Linked DNA regions of Homo sapiens: all the other regions are linked to region 1. Evidence: fine-mapped expression QTL. A gene starts in region 1. Each other region holds a variant in brackets. All regions are shown on one strand. Distances are between the middles of the regions. Region 1 holds the start of CDC37 (cell division cycle 37, HSP90 cochaperone). Region 2 has its middle 6.8 kb from the start of EIF3G. Region 3 overlaps PDE4A (phosphodiesterase 4A).

Region 1 (5,971 bases):
TCAGGAGGCAGAAGTAGGAGGATCACTTGAGCCCGGAAGGTGGAAGTTGCAGTGAGCTGAGATGGCGCCACTGCCATCTCAGGGTGACAAAGCAAGGCCCTGTCTCGAAAAAAAAAAGAGAGAGACAAGGTCTTGCTATGTTGCTCAGGCTGGACTTGAACTTCTGGGCTCAAATGATCCTTCTGCCTCAGTCTCCTGAGTAGCTAGGACTATAGGCATGTGCCACCACATGTGGCTACAGATTTTTTTTTTTTTAACCATGAACAGAAATTATTTAAATGATGATGATGATAATAGCCACTGCCCCAAAAGGATTACAAATATTAAATGAATAAGGTAAGCCTTACAACAACCTTATGGGGTGGACATCATTCAGATTCTCAGGTAGGGAAACTGAGGCACAGAGCGATCAAACAGCTCCCTGGCAGTCACGCAGCACGTGAGTGATACAGACAGAGCTGAGATTTGAACCTAGTCAGGCCTGTGCTCTGAACGACAGCAATCTCTCCTTCCCCTCCACAATGCTTCCTTCCAAACCTGCCCCAAGTTTTCCTGACCCAGTCTTAATTCATTCTTACAAAGGTCTCAGGGAGGTGGGGCCATATTATCCCAGGTTTCACATGGGCTCAGGGAGGCTTCTTGTGAGTCTTGCCACATCAAAGAAAGAAAGAAGCAGCAAGAGGTGGGGCTAGGATTGGAACCCAAGCTTGCCTGTCCTTGAACCTGTGCTGGAGACGCTGAAGCCCCCTGCCTCCCTTACATGCCACTACAACCACCGGGGTTCTCAGCGGCAGGACAGGAAAAGCTCTGTGCCAGAGGGAGGAGGGTGTGGCAGGTACACTACGCTGCAGGAGGGGGGCCCTCCCACCCGGCAGGACCAAACCATTCTCCACAGTAGTAAAGATTAACCTCTTTATGTGACAGAAATAGGTCTTCCCAAGAATAGTCTTTGGAGCTTTGAGGAAGTCTTAAATATTTCATAATAAAATGTTACACACGGCAAGAAATAGAAGCGCTAGAACTTTCTTCCCACACTCCAGTGGCTTGCTTGGCAGGTACACTACCCAGGAGACTCAGGATTTAAGGAATAGGTCTGGAAGTGGGACTGGGAGCTAGATGAAGAGACTAATGCCGTATTCCAGAGTATTCTGGAAGGATGGGAAAGGGACCTTCTAGTTGTTTCTGGATAAATGATGGGGAATTGCCCTATGGGAGGGTGGGGTAAGAGATCCTCACTAGAAGGTTCTGAGAGGTATATGCCCTTCGTTTAAGAGCACAACATGGCTGGGTGCGGTGGCTCACGCCTGTAATCCCAGCACTTTGGGAGGCCGAGGTGGGTGGATCAACTGAGGTCGGAAGTTCAAGACCAGCCTGACCAACATGGAGAAACCCTGTCTCTACCAAAAATACAAAATTAGCCAGGCATGGTGGTGCATCATGCCTGTAATCCCAGCTACTCAGGAGGCTGAGGCAGGAGAATCACTTGAACCCGGGAGGCAGAGGTTGCAGTGAGCCAAGATTGTGCCACTGCACTCCAGCCTGGGCGACAAGAAGGAAACTTCGTCTCAAAAAAAAAAAAAAAAAAAAAAAAAGGAATACAACAGACACTGGTATGTAATGCAGGCACACTCATTTGGGGTAGCAGGAGGTTAAACCTTTAAGTCTTAGTCATCCCATTGGCTCGTGAGCACTGAGAGGGTGGTGGGACATGGATCACCCAGGCTTGGGATTCTGGGGTCTGGATTCGGGACCTCTGTTGTGGTCAGATAGAAGAAGGGGTGGTGAATTTAGAATCAGACCAGGAGAGTCCCTGGATAAGAGCAGGGACAATTTGGGTCACAGAGTAGCTAACAGGCTGGGGACAAAAGGTGGGGTGGGTTTGGGGTTCTGGGCTTGAGTTAGGGGAGAGTTTCCAATGCTGGCTGAGGCTCATACAGGAAGCCAGTCTGGGAAGTGGGTGGTGACAGGGTCTGCAATACCAAGTAGGAGCAGGGGCTCTGGCTAGGCCGGAAGCCACGTGGGCAGGATTTCCTGGTATAATGGGAAATGGGTCTACCGGAGGCCAAAGGAGAGGCTGGAATGTGAGGCTCTATCGGGTTGGAGCTGGTAGTTAGATCCAGAGGGGAACCAGATTCCAAAACCCAAGTACTCGGTGAGACTAAGGATCCTGAAGGGGGACGGTTCTACACTCTAGGAAGGGGGTCCTGGGTGTGGGCAGGGACAGGAATATCAGAGTAGCACAGAGTTCCTTGTTCCGTTTAGAAAAGGAGTGGCGACTCCGGATCTGAATGGGAACCCCGGATCAAGATCCCGGAAAGTAGATCCCGGGACAGACCAAAGTATTGGGGGTCCAGACTACGGAGGTGGGGGGGCGATGGGAGATCCCAGATAGGAAGTGAATACCCGAATAGGATGAGGGATCATCTAGAAGAATTTGGGGTCCAAACTTTGAGGCAGAGTTCTGGGTATAAATGTTAACTGCCGAACAGAATTAGGGAGAACCCCCAAGACTCGTCTAGGGGACTCCAGACTATGAAGAAGTTCTAGGGGGTGAATAGGGAATCCCACGCAAAAATCGGAGCAGGGAGTGGGGGAGCGGAGATCCAGGGCAGGGACTCAGGGTCCCAATGGTACTGGGGTCCCGGAGTTGAATCGAAGCTCCTGAAAATCCAGACTGGGGGGGTGAGAATCCTAGGTGTGAACAGCGGGGTCCCTGGGCAGTATCGGGGATCACAACTCCGAAGCGGGGTCCGGGAGTGGGGAAAGGGATGGGCGCGCGCGCCTTACCTGATGCCGCCAGCGGAAGAGACTGGCCGTGTCGATGTTGGGGTGCGTCTCGTCTTCATCATCAGACACCTCAATGTGGTCCCACACGCTGTAGTCCACCATCTTGCCTTGGCGGCCCAGCCCGCTCCGGCTCGGGTGGCGGCGACGGCGGCAGCAGTGGAGACTAGGAGCGCGGAGCCCCGCCCCTTCCGCTTCCGCCGAGCGCGGGAAACCCCGCCCTGTGTGACGTCACATCCCTAGTAACCGCGGCAGCGGCACTAGCTACCCAGCCAGCCTTAAAGGGCCCTGCGTAAGTGTTCCGGCCCCCTGGAGTTCCCGCAGAGACTCCGCGTCATCGGGCGCTGGGGCTCCGCTAGGTCTCCTGGGGGCATATGAGTGCGCGCTTCAACTCCGAGCCCCCCTCATCTCCCGCCGCTCCACGGTGGGCGTTTGGGGTGGCAGGGAGGGGACGGTTGATGAGACTGAGAGGACTGTCCCCTCAGCCACGCCGCAGTGACGTCTGCAAGGGGTAGGGACACGGCGGGAAGGCCCTCCCCCTGCCCTTCGTAAACGGGGACCTAAGCCTGCGCTGGAGAGGGGCGCCTGATGACTCCTCGGACTTTCTCAGCCCGAGGAGGACTGGACCTGCCCTGGGGGTGTCTAAATCGGGGGTGGTATGGCCCTCCCCTTGCAGGGTTAAACGTGGAGGGGAGACTGTGGCCCTGCCTTGGGAGCTGGGGTTTCCCCGCCTCGGCAACAGCCTTCTCCTTGTCTTCCACCTCCTGCCATTCGCAGCGAGGACTCGCGCGAGCGCGCGCGCGCACACACACACACACACACACACACACGCACACACACACACACACACACTTTGGAATCACCCGGACCCCCTCAAAACGGGTCTCGGCTCCCCACCCCGCTGGCCGCTGGGTGTCGCTAGAGTCTAGCCCACGGCGCGTATTCCTGGCCCCGCGCTTGGTGGGGGGAATCGTGGAGGGGTGGAAGGGGGCTTTCCTTGTCGTCACAGTCTGGGGCCACGCATAGCCCCTCCCCGTTCGTCTTGGGGTACGCTTCCTCCGCCGGGGCTCTAAGGACTCCATTACTCTAAGCATGCAGGGCCTCGACCACCTCACACTTCCATGCATCCCAATCCACGCTTTGATACCAGGATAATAGGCCGTGTTGCAGCCTTGGGCCAGGATTATCTCAGATTAAAGGGTGCTCCCTCGGGGGTCAGGCTGGATAGGAGGAGCTCCAGCCACTCCGGTGAGGGGCGCCTCTTCCTAGTCTCCCCTGGAGCCGACGTTGGAGGCAGTGCCTGGAGAGAGCGAGCGAAGTTCTCCAGAAGGGGGAGGATTCCCCGGTGCATGGAGCGGGAAGGGCCATCGGACAAAAACGTCCTCCCGCTGCCGCCCTTCCCCCTCGCGCTTCATTCAAACCCGCGAGTGGGCGGGCAGGGGCGGGGGAGTCCCCATCTCCTACCCCTCCCTCTTCCCCTCCACCCTGGCAGTCCAGCACATCAGTGGCCGTCACGGCCCGGGCACGCGCGCGCACGGACCCACACCCCGGCGGCTCTCACAATCGCACACACACATACACACACACACCAGCAAACAAAGGGTCTGGACACCCCCGTCCCCTCCCGCCCCCCAGGCCAGGGAGGGCGGGGCATCCCCTCCCCAGGCCCCCCGCAAGGTAAGCTTGGGGCTGCGAGCTGCGGTGGGGAGGGGGACACGGTGCCACAGTGGGAGGGGGCCAGGAAGGTAGGGGGTTCCCCGGCTCCCCAGGAAAGTCGTACCCCCACCCCCACCGTATGCCCTTTAGGGATTCGGCCCCGTCATCAGCCTGGGGGTGTTTGGAGAGAATCCCAGATGTCGGGGATTCCCGGATAGGCGCGGGGGTCTCTTCCTGGCTCTGGAGACTGGAGCTGCCCAGCTTCAGCAAAACAGGGTTCCCGGAGCCTCAGCTTCCAGAACTGGGGATAGAGCGCCGGAAGCTTCCCCATCAACCCCAAGCATTTCCTAATCTGCCAGCACAGCACCTCCAGCCCTGGGGACTGAGGAGAGAGACCCCTAAGTTGCTTTGCACTGTCCCTCTGTCCCCGGTCCCCATCCCACCCCCATCGGTGCAAACCCTGCTATGTCTCTCCTGCCTGTGTGTGTGTGTGGGGGGGAGGTTTGCGGGAATTGGGAACGCTTTTTGGGGCTACCTTTGCTTCTTCTGCTACATCCCATAGCCACATACCACTGAGCTGCGGTGGGGCCCGGCAGGCGGCTTTGCCTTCCTGAGTCTCAATTTCCTCCTCTGCAAAGTGGGTAATGACACACACCTAGGATTCCGCGAAATCGTGCTCGCGGAGCCTGCTTTTGCGCCATCATTTTATTTATTAGCTCATTTCACATCTCTTTCCCAAGTGTCTACTTACGATGTACTGGGCACTGTGACCAGGCTTTGGGGCAGCAGCAACCAACAAACCCAGTAGGGGTCCCTGCTCCTGGCTAGTGAGGGAGCAGGATCCCTGTATAAACATACAAATCCCCGCGGGTGATTTCAGACTGTGAAGACTAAAATTCTGTCCTCGGACAGAGAGAGACTAGGGAAAGGCACTCAAGATTAAAGGAGAAGCTGGGCACAGTGGCTCACGCCTGTAATCCTAGCACTTTGGGAGGCCGAGGCAGGCGGATCACTTGAGGTCAGGAGTTCGAGACCAGCCTGGCCAACATGGTGAAACCCCATGTCTACTAAAAATACAAAAATTAGTCGGGCGTGGTGGCAGGCGCCTGTAATCCCAGCTACCCGGGAGGCTGAGGCAGAAGAATTGCTTAAACCCGGGAGGCGGTGGTTGCAGTGAGCCAAGATCACACCACTGCACTCCAGTTTGGGTGACAGAGCAAGACTCTGTCAGAAAAAAAAACAAAAAACAAAAAACAGATTAAGTAAGACTTCTGGATCCTGCCTGCCTTCCTCCTTGGGTCTGAGCTCATGAGGGCAGGATCAGGTCTAGAACAGTGCCTGGCACACAGTAGGTGCTCAATAAATGTTGAATGAGCGTGGCACCCTGGTGTGAGCCTGTAGTCCCAGCTACTCGGGAGGCTGGCTGGAGGATCCCAGCGACACCCATCTCTAAAAAAAAATAAAAACAAAAAATAAATCCTTAGCTGGGCATGGTGGCACACGCCTGTAGTCCCAGCTATTCAGGATGCTG
Region 2 (5,971 bases), 280 kb before region 1:
CTGGGACTACAGGCACCCGCCACCACGCCCAGCTAATTTTTGTATGTTTAGTCGAGATGGGGTTTCACCGTGTTAGCCAGGATGGTCTTGATCTCCCGACCTTGTGATCCGCCCACCTTGGCCTCCCAAAGTGCTGGGATTACAGGTGTGACCCACCCGTGCCCGGCCCAGGTCCTTTTTTTCTTTTTTCTTTTTTTTTTGGGGGACGGAGTCTTGCTCTATTGCCCAGGCTGGAGTGCAGTGGTGCGATCTCAGCTCACTGCAACCTCCGCCTCCTGGGTTCAAGCGGTTCTCCCGCCTCAGCCTCCTGAGTAGCTGGGATTACAGGCATGCACACCACCACACCCGGCTAATTTTGTATTTTTAGTAGAGACGGGGGTTTCTCCATATTGGTCAGGGTAGTCTCGAACTCCCGACCTCAGGTGATCCGCCTGCCTGGGCCTCCCAAAGTGCTGGGATTACAGGCATGAGCCACCGCACCTGGCACGCCTTTTTTTTTTTTTTTTTTTTTTTGAGACAGGGTCTTTCTCTGTCACCCAGGCTGGAGTGCAGTGGCACGATCACAGCTCACTGCAGCCTCAACCTCCCCAGGCTAAGGTGATGCCCTTGCCCTGGTCTCCCAAAATGCTGGGATCACAGGCATGAACCACCGTGCCCAGACTCATTTAAGGAATATAGTGACTCGGGCAAGGGACATGGTGTGCCCTGTGCTCTGTCCTGTTTTGTCTTCAAAGCCTTGTTCTGTAGAGCTGCGCAGACGTGTCTCACGTGTCTCAGAGTCAGGGGCTTTGTGAAATTACGCTGGAAAGCAGAATTGAGCAAACCCAGCTTAACATTAGTTACTTTTTCTCACATTTTCACAACAAAATATCACAGACTAGGAGGCTTAAACAGCACACATTTATTTTCTCAGTTCTGGAGGCTGGAAGTCCAAGATCACAGTGTCGGCAGGGTTGGTTTCTTCTGAGGTGGGGGCACCTTCTCCCTCGGTCCTCACGTGGCCTCCTCTGTGTGTGTCTATGTCCCAATCTCTTCTTCTAAGGACATCAGTCATATTGGATTAGGGCCCACCCTAATGACCTCATTTAAACTTTTTTTTTTTAATTATTTTTTTTAAAGGTGAAGTCTCACTCTGTAGTCCAGGCTGGAGTGCAGTGGTGCAATCTCAGCTAATGGCAACCTCCACCTCCTGGGTTCCAGTGATTCTCCTGCCTCAGCCTCCCGAGTAGCTGGGTCTACAGGCATGTGCCACCACACCTGGCTAATTTTTGTATTTTTGTATTTCTAGTAGAGACGGGGTTTCACCAAGTTGGCCAGGCTGGTCTCAAACTCCTGATCTCAAGTGGTTTGCCTGCCACGGCCTCCCAACGTGCTGGGATTACAGGCATAAGCCACCACACCTGGGTTTAATTTTCTCTCTAAAGGTCCTGTTTCTGCTGGGCACAGTGGATCACGTCTGTAATCCCAGCACATTGGGAGGCCAAGGTGGGCGGATCCCTTGAGGTCAGGAGTTCGAGACCAGCCTGGCCAACATAGCGAAACCCCTGTTGTCTACTACAAATACAAAAATTAGCCAGGTGTGGTGGCAGGCATCTGTAATCCCAGCTGCTCGGGAGGCTGAGGCATGGCAATCCCTTGAACCCGGGAGGCAGAGGTTGCCATGAACCAATACTGCGCCACTGAACTCCAGCCTGGGCGATGGAGTGAGACTCCTTTTTTTTTTTTGAGATGGAGTTTTGCTCTTGTTGCCCAGGCTGGAGTGCAGTGGCATGATCTTAGCTCACCGCAACCTCCACCTCCCGGGTTCAAGTGATTCTCCTGCCTCAGCTTCCCTAGTAGCTGGAATTACAGGCATGTGCCACCATGCCCAGCTAATTTTGTATTTTTAGTAGAGACGGGGTTTCTCCATGTTGGCCAGGCTAGTCTTGAACTCCAAACTCAGGTGATTCGCCTGTCTTGGCCTCCCAAAGTGCTAGGATTATAGGTGTGAGCCGCCGCACCCGGCCAAGACTTTGTAAAAAAAAATAAAAATAGGCCATGCGCGGTGGCTCACACCTGTAATCCCAGCACTTTGGGAGGCCGAGGTGGGAGGATCACTTGAGGTCAGGAGTTCGAGACGAGCCTGGCCAACATGATGATACCCCATCTCTACTAAAAATACAAAAATCAGCTGGGTGTGGCCAGGCATGGTGGCTCACGCCTGTAATCCCAGCACTTTGGGAGGCCAAGGTAGGTGGATCACCTGAGGTTGGGAGTTCGAGACCAGCCTGACCAACATGGAGAAACCCTGTCTCTCCTAAAAATACAAAATTAGCTGGGCGTGGTGGCGCATGCCTGTAATCCCAGCTACTCAGGAGGCTGAGGCAGGAGAATCGCTTGAACCCAGGAGGCAGAGGTTGTGGTGAGCCGAGATCCTGCCATTGCAGTCCAGCCTGGGCAACGAGAAGGTAACTCTGTTTCAAAAGAAAAAAAAAAAAAACAGCTGGGCGTGGTGGTGCGTGCCTGTAATCCCAGCTACTAAGGAGGCTGAGGCAGGAGAATCACTTGAACCCAGGAGGCGGAGGTTGCAGCGAACCAAGATTGCGCCATTGCACTCCAGCCTAGGCAACAGAGACTCCATCTCAAAAAAAAAAAAAAAGTAAATAGAGATAAAAAGAAAGAAATACTAAATTGATGGACATGCAGATGTGGTAACAGCCAAAAAACAGGGGCAGAAAGGAGACGTGGCAATGTCCTTACTGTGGTTTTTCTAGGGAAGTAGATGGGCACCTCAGCCTTACATGTTTATTTCATTTAAAAAACAGCCTTCC[A/G]CTATGAACTATGGTATGGTGGTTCCTCAAAACATTAAAAATAGAACCACCAAATGACCCAGCACTTCCACATCTGCTTTATACTTACAAGAATTGAAATCACTGGAGACCAGCCTGGGCAACAGAGTGAGACGCCATCTTTACAAAAAATAATCATATATTAAAAGGAAAAAAAAAGAAGCCAGGCACGGTGGCTTACACCTGTAATCCCAGCACTTTGGAAGGATGAGGAGGGACGATCATTGGAGCCCAGGAGTTTGAGACCAGCCTGGGCAACATAGCAAGAACTCATCTTTACTAAAAATAAAAATAAAAATTAGTTAGGCGTGATGGTACATACTTGTAGTCCCAGCTACTCCAGAGACTGAGGTTGGGGGATCTCTGGAGCGAAGGAGTTCGAGGCTGCAGTGAGCTATGATCGCATCACTGCAGTCCAGTCTGGGTGAAAGAACAAGACCCTGTCTCTAAAAAGAAAAGACAAGGTTTCTAATTCTTACACCAAAATACATCCTCAAGTTGTTCTTGGTGAAGGATCGTATACCTGAAAATGTGACCACTGAAAAAGTGGGATTAAAAACAAGGAAATTCAGGCCAGGCGCGGTGGTTCACACCTGTAATCCTAGCACTTTGGGAGGCTGAGGCAAGCGGATCACCCGAGGTCAGGAGTTCAAGACCAGCCTGGCCAACATGGTGAAACCCCATCTCTACTAAAAATACAAACATTAGCTGGGTGTGATGGCCCATGCCTGTAATCTCAGCTACTCAGGAGGCTGAGGCAAGAGAATCCCTTGAACCCAAAGATGGAGGTTGCAGTGAGCAGAGATCGCGCCACTGCACTGCAGCTTGGGTGACAGAGTGAGACTCCATCTCCAAAAAAAAAAAAAAAAAGGAATTCAACAAGTTGGTTAGATTCAAAAAACACAGTTTACAAAATCACAGCCAATACAAATGGAGCATCTCTCCATAGGCAAAGGACCATGGTTTAGAAATCAAGAAAACATCCCATTTATATTAGTAATGAAGGGACTAAATACTTAGGAATCAAGTTATGAAGTCTGCAAGATCTGGATGAAAAGCTGTGGACACAAAGGAATTCCTGAACAAACAGGACAAACCCTGTTCTTAGAAAGGAAGGCTTGTCATTAACATGTCAATTCTTCCAGAAGTCTGCAAAGTTAATGAAATCCCTATAAAACACCTGCTTGACTTTTAGCGGCTGTGCCAGTTCTAAAGTTTCAATCCAGTCATTCAACTCCTAGAAAAGTAGCCTAGACGTGGATACACATGTGTATACAAATCTATGTCCAGCCATCCCTCGGTATCCCCAGGGGATTGGTTCTAGGACCCCATGTGGTACCAAAATCAGAATGTGCTCAAATCCCTAATATAAAATGTCATAGGCCGGGCATGGTGGCTCACACCTGTAGTTCCAGCACTTTGGGAGGCTGAGGCGGGTGGATCATTTGAGGTCAGGAGTTCAAGACCAGCTTGACCAACATGGTGAAACCCCGTCTCTACTAAAAATACAAAAAAATTAGCCGGGCGTGGCGGCACATGCCTGTAATCTCAGTTACTTGGGAGGCTGAGGCAGGAGAATCACTTGAACCCGGGAAGCAGAGGTTGCAGTGAGCCAAGATTGTGCTACTGCACTCCAGCCTGGGCGACAGAGTGAGACTCTGTCTCAAATATAAAATAAAATAAAATAAAATAAAATGGCATAGTATTTGCATATACGCTACACATATTCTCCTGTGTACACTACTTTTTGACAGAGTCTTGCTTTGTCACCCAGGCTAGTGCAATCTCGGCTTAATGCAACCTCCACCTGCTGGGCTCAAGTGATCCTCCCATCTCAGCCTCTGGAGTAGCTGGGACTACAGGTGTGTGCCACCATGCTCAGCAAATTTTTGTTATTTTTTGTAGAGAAGGTGTTTCGCCATGTTGGCCAGGCTGGTCTTGAACTCCTGGCCTCAAGTGTTCCTCCTACCTTGGCCTCCCAAAGTGCTGGGATTACAGGCATGACCCACTGCGCCCGGCCTCTCCTGTGTACTTTATGTCGTCTCTAGATTATTTGTAATACCTGACATAACGTCTACACGTTGCTTTATTCTCATGGATTCCATGTAGTACTTGGTAAGTGGCAAATACAAGTTTTGCTTTTTGGAACTTTGTGGAATTTTTCTGAATATTTTAAATCTGTGGTTGGTTGAATGCCAGAGGTGGAACCCTTGGATACAAAGGCCTGACCTGCATCACAATTCAATCTACTGCTCTTGAGACTGTAGTTGTTTCCAAACAATATAAAGAAAAAAAGTTCAAATAAAGGCTTTCTAAGAGATTTATTGTATAACATAGTGAGTATAGTTAATATATTCTTGTCCAGGCGCAGTGGTTCATGCCTATAATCCCAGCATTTGGGGATGCCAAGGCAGGTAGATCGCTTGAGCCCAGGATTCTGAGACCAGCCTGGGCAACAAAGCGAGATCCTGTCTATAAAAAAATATAAAAATCAGCTACCAGGCATGGTAGCTCATGTCTGTAATCCCAGCACTTTGGGAGGCCGAGGCAGGCAGATCGCTTGAGCCCAGGAGTCTGAGACCAGCCTGGCCAACATGGCGAAACCCCATCTCTACTAAAAACATAGAAATTAGCCAGGCCTGGTGGCAGGCCTGTAATCCCAGCTACTCGGGAGACTGAGGCATGAGAATAGCTTGAACCCAGGAGGCAGAGGTTGCAGTGAGCCAAGATCGCACCACCGTACTCCAGCCTGGTGACAGAGTGAGATTCCGTCTCAAAAATAAATAAAAATAAAAATAATGATTAGCTGGGTATGGCGGCACATGCCTGTGGTCCCAGCTACTACAGAAGCTGAGGTGGGAGGATCACGTGAGGCCAGGAGTTTGAGACCACCCTGAGCAACACAGTGAGACCCCATCTCCACAAAAAAAATGTAAAACTTAGCTGGGCATGGTGGCATGCGCCTGTAGTTCCAGCTACTCAGGAGGCTGAGGCAGGAGGATCACTTAAGCCCAGGAGATCAAGGCTGCAGTAGAACATCGCTGCACTCCAGCCTGGGCAACAGAGCAAGATCCTGCCTCTAAAATATATATATATTTTTTTTAAAAAGGACAAAACTGATACACATATTAATGACATGGATG
Region 3 (5,000 bases), 23 kb after region 1:
TGAGGGTTCTGTGAGCTTGGAGATGTGTGTAAAGGACTTAACATAATCAGTAGATCTCCATTCAGGGACCTGGACTAAGGAGGGGGGACCTGGGTGGATCCCATTTCTCCAGGGTGAGTAGAAAAAAACAGGAACCTTAACCACATCCCCACGTAGACTCGGGTTTCTGTTTCACTGTGGGCCTGTGCACCCTTCAGTGTCTGTGCTGAGGTCCAAAGCTGGGACTGATGGGTGGGCTGTAGCTGGCATCAGTGCCAGGGTCCTCCCCCATTCCCAGGGAAAAGGAGGAAGGTGTCTGATGGCAACCTCAATGCTTAGAACAGGCATTTCTTCAAAAAGGGGGTTTTTACCAGGGCACATACAGGATTCAGTGCTCCCCACACTGGAGTTCATCCAGCTACCGCAAAAGGAGTCCAGCGAGCTCCCCCGATTTGGGTCAAAGGAATCCCCAGAGAGAGGGCACTGCCCACCCCCAACCGGAGATGTCATCCAAACCTCCCCTCCAGACCTGAAGATGTATGAGACGGCTGAGTCACGGCACAGCCACGATCTGTCAAGAGGCAGATGGAGAGGGAGGAAGAGGAGGACTTTGGTGGTGGGGGTGGGGAGCTGTCTGAACTGGGGACGGGGCCAACATACGGACCCTGCGTCCCCCCTCCCTGGGCCCTAAAACTTCCCCATCGAGGTGGGGGCACAGTGTGGCCCCAGGAGCAGGTGGAGGCAGCCGAGCTGGGGTATCCGTCTGGTCGCTGGTCTCTGTCTCCACTTGGGTCCTCGCCTCCCCCTTGTCCCTGGCGCTCCCAAGTCCCTGGATGTGGGTTGGGAGCGGGTCTCCCCGCGCGCCCTCTGCTGGACGACGAGGAAGGCACAGCCTGGGTGTGCGCTCCGAGCGCGGACCTGCTCCAGGGACGCCGCCAGTCCCGGAGCAAAGCAAAGTCGCCGCCACCGTCGCGGCGCCCGGTATTATTATTTTATGCTTATTGAGCGTCCTGGAGAGCGGGCGCCAGGCCGGCTGACCGCAGGCTGCGTGTGGGGTCCTCGCCCTCCCGGGCTTGGGACCAGGCCGCTTTCCCCATGCGCCAGCCCCTGCCACACGCTGCGGGGACTGTCGTCTGGAGGACAGGGAGGAACCTGGCCGAAAAGTTGCAGCCGTGGAGTTCCCGTCCCGCCTCTGCGCGCTTGCCCGGCAGGCCGGTGAACCCCAGCATCCTTGGCTCTGCGCTTCCTGCCCGGGAAACAGAGACCATGGGACTTGCCCAAGGTCACACAGCGAGGAAGGTGAGAATAGGAGTTAAAAACCAGATCTCGGCCAGGCGCGGTGGCTCTGTAATCTGAGCACTTTGGGAGACCGAGGTGGGCGGATCACGAATGAGGTCAGGAGTTCAAGATCATCCTGGCCAACATGGTGAAACCCCGTTTCTACTAAAAATACAAAAATTAGCCGGGTATGGTGGCACACGTCTGTAATCCTAGCTACTCGGGAGGCTGAGGCAGGAGAATCGCTTGAACCCGGGAGGCAGAGGTTGCAGTGAGTCGAGATGGCACCACTGCACTCCAGCCTGGCAGCAGAGCGAGACCCTGTCTCAAAAAAAAAAACAAAAAACAAAAAACAGATCTGCTCCACTGCAGACCGCTGGGTAACATTCACATGGCAGCCCTGCCCGCTGACTCGCTGTGTGACTTGGGGTCAGTGCTTGTGCCTCTCGGAGCCTCAGTTTCCTCATCAGTCAAACGGGGCTGAAAAATAAGAACTGTCCACCCCCAGGGCTGTGGTGAGGCTGATATGTTTGACGTAGGTGCTGGGCAGCCAGGAGCTGGTGTTCTGAGAAAGTACTTCCTCAAATGACATCAGCAGAGAGAAAGGGGGCGTCCCCCAAACCGCAAACCCGGCTGGTGGGGAAGGTGCCCCATATTTCATTGGTAACAGATTGACTGCAGGCTCTTATGACTTTAGGAAAACTGGGGCTTTGGACCTGGGAGAGCCACAGTCTGGCAGGGTGAGAACAGAATTGTGAGGGCATCTGAGCCCACTCTTTTCATTGTGGAGTATGAAAGAGTTCAAATCTGGCTGGGCGCGGTGGCTCATGCCTGTAATCCCAGCACTTTGGGAGGCTGAGGCGGGTGGATTATTTGAGGTCAGGAAATTGAGACCAGTCTGGCCAACATGGTGAAACCCCGTCTCTACTAAAAATACAAAAATTAGCCAGGTGGTAGTGGTGCATGCCTGTAATCCCAGCTACTGGTGAGGCTGAGGCAGGAGAATTGGTTGAGCCTGGAAGGCGGAGGTTGCGGTGAGCCGAGATTGGGCCACTGCACTCCAGTCTGGGCGAGAGACTGAGACCCTGTCAAAAAAAAAAAAAAAAAAAAAAAAAAAAAGGAAGGAGGGAAGGAAGGAAAGAAAAGAGTTCAAATCCACTTTTGGCCAGGCGAGGTGGCTCACACCCAGCACTTTGGGAGGCTGATGTGGGAGGATTGCCTGAGGCTGGAGTTTGAGACCAGCCTGGGCAGCATGGTGAGACCCTATCTCTACAAAAAGAAAAAAATAAAAGAAGTAAATCCAGCTTTTGTCCTGGACTCGCTGTGTGACCTTCACCTGTCAGAGCCTCAGTCTCCTCATTTCTAGCAGATTCGTTCATTCCACAAACACTGAGCGCCTTCAGAACTGTGGCTGAGAATGCTGTAGACCAAGTTTGTCCAACCCGTGGCCCAGGATGGCATTGAATTCGGCCCAACACAAATTCGTAAACTTTCTTAAAACAATGAGATTCTTTTTTTTTT[C/T]CCTCTCATTAGCTATTGTTAGTGTTAGTGTATTTTATGTGTGGCCCAAGACAATTCTTCGCCTTTCAGTGTGGCCCAGGGATGCCAAAAGATTGCACACCCTTGCCATAGACACATTCCCTGCTGCCCTGAAATTGTCAGACTAGAGGGTGAAGCAGAAATAGCAAGTAAAGGGCTGGGTGCGGTGGCTCAGGCCTGTAATCCCAGCACTTTGGGAGGCCAAGGCAGGTGGATTACTTGAGGCCAGGAGTTCGAGACCAGCCTGGCCAAAACCTGGCAAAACCCTGTCTCTACTAAAAATACAAAAATTAGCTGGGCGCACGCCTGCAATCCCAGCTACTTGGGAGGCTGAGGTGGGAGGAGGATTGCATGAACCCAGGAGGCGGAGGTTGCAGTGAGCCGAGATTGCGCCACTTCACTCCAGCCTGGGTGACAAAGCCAGACTCCGTCTCAAAAAAAAAAAAAGAAATAGCAAGTAAAGCTGTATGATAATTCAAGATGGTCACACATAGGATATGAAAAAAAGAGGGATCCTGAGGTCAGGGAAGGCCTCTCTGAGGAGGTGACATTTGAACAAAGACCCAAATAAAATGAGGGAGGTAAGGGCCGGGCGCAGTGGCTCACACCTGTAATCCCAGCACTTTGGGAGGCCGAGGCAGGTGGATCACGAGGTCACGAGTTCAAGACCAGTCTGGCCAGGATGTTGAAACTCCATCTCTACTAAAAATACAAAAATTAGCTGGGCGCAGTGGCAAGTGCCTGTAATCCCAGCTACTCAGGAGGCTGAGGCAGGAGAACTGCTTGAACCCAGGAAGTGGAGGTTGCAGTGAGCCAAGACCGTGCCAGTGCACTTCAGCCTGGGTGACAGAGCAAGACTCCGTCTAACAAAAAACAAAAGAGGGAGGTTGCTACATGGGTGTCTGATGGAAGAGGGTGCCAACCAGAGGGAAGAGCCAGTGCAGAGGTCCTGTGGTGGGAGTGTGTCTGATACGTTGGAGGCAAGTGTGTCTGAGGCAGAGTGAGCGAGGAGGCAGTGGAAAAAAAGGAGGGAGCGAGGTGACAGGCAGCTCATGTAAGGGCTCATAGACCATTAGGCCATGATCAAGGTTGGCTTTAGGCCTCAGTTTACATCTGGCTTCCTAGGACGGGACAAGCATCATTGGGCTGGAAGGAAACTCATCCATAAAGGGCTTGTGTAGCCTCATGGCTAAAATTCCTGTCTCTGAAGCCAGACAGCTGGGTCCATAATCCAGCTCTGATCTTTCTAGATTGGGAGACCCTAGCCAAGTCACTCCTCTCTGGGCCTTGGCTTCCCCGTCTCTGAAATGGGCCTAGTAAAAACCGTATTCCCAAGGGCTGATCTGACGAACTGGCAAAACAATTCAGGGAAGCTAAGGGCATTGAAACCTTGGTCGGTGAACAAAAATGCATTTCTGGGACAGGTATAGTGGCTCATGCCCAACACACTTTGGGAGGCTGAGAGGGAGGCGGATCACTTGAGCCTGGGAGGTGGAGGTTGCAGTGAGCCAATATCATGTCACTTGCACTGCAGTCTGGGTGACAGAGTGAGACCCTGTCAAAAAAAAAAAAAAAAAAAGAATATCACCTGGTGGGTGTCTGGTGGGTACTTTGTGAGGATTAAATGAGATCATAAGACCAAGTGTGGTGGCTCACGCCTGTAATCCCAGCACTTTGGGAGGCCAAGGCGGGCAGATCACTTGAGTCCAGGAGCTCAAGACCAGCCTGGGCAACATAGGAAAACCCCATCTCTAGAAAAAGTACAAAAAATTAGTCAGGCATGGTGGCGCACATGCTACTCAGCTACTTAGCTGCTCAGGAAGCTGAGGTTGAAGGATCACTTGACCGCAGGAAGTTGAGACTGCAGTGAGCTATGATCGTGCCACTGTACTCCAGCCTCGATGACAGAGTGAGATCCTGTCTCGAGAGAGAGAGAGAGAGAGAGAGAGAGAGAGAGAGATATTGAGAGAGAGAGAGAGAGAGAGATCATAGCTAGAGGCACTGGATGCACAGGAAGCTTTCTAAAGGGTTAGTTGCTATCATCACCATCATCGTCATTATCATCATCATCTATACCCTCTAGCTAGTATAGTGATTTGCATATTATAAGCCTTCAGTAAATATTTGTCAAATACTGATAATAACTGTAGCTCATATTGAGTGCTTACTAGGTTCAGACACTTTTCTGAGCTTTTTATGTGTCC

Evidence for each region. PIP is the estimated chance that this variant, and not a neighbour inherited with it, causes the effect.
Region 2: its variant is fine-mapped to the expression of CDC37 in whole blood (TOPMed, PIP 0.94).
Region 3: its variant is fine-mapped to the expression of CDC37 in whole blood (TOPMed, PIP above 0.99).

What each region holds. Positions count from the first base shown.
Region 1 is chr19:10,400,591-10,406,561 of GRCh38, forward strand. CDC37 (cell division cycle 37, HSP90 cochaperone) reads right to left here and starts at 2,952. Exons shown (of 8, transcript NM_007065.4): 1 at 2,788-2,952. The coding sequence starts at 2,889. MIR1181 (microRNA 1181) reads right to left here and starts at 2,948; the gene lies at 2,868-2,948. RefSeq lists silencers at 2,668-2,727, 4,438-4,487 and an enhancer at 3,128-3,477.
Region 2 is chr19:10,123,699-10,129,669 of GRCh38, forward strand. No RefSeq gene overlaps it. Among named protein-coding and RNA genes, the nearest start is that of EIF3G, 6.8 kb to the left of the region's middle. The variant A/G (reference allele first, on the strand shown) is at 2,811.
Region 3 is chr19:10,423,638-10,428,637 of GRCh38, forward strand. The region is part of intron 1 of PDE4A (phosphodiesterase 4A); the gene reads left to right. Among named protein-coding and RNA genes, the nearest start is that of PDE4A, 5.6 kb to the left of the region's middle. RefSeq lists an enhancer at 2,132-2,211 and a silencer at 4,703-4,772. The variant C/T (reference allele first, on the strand shown) is at 2,779.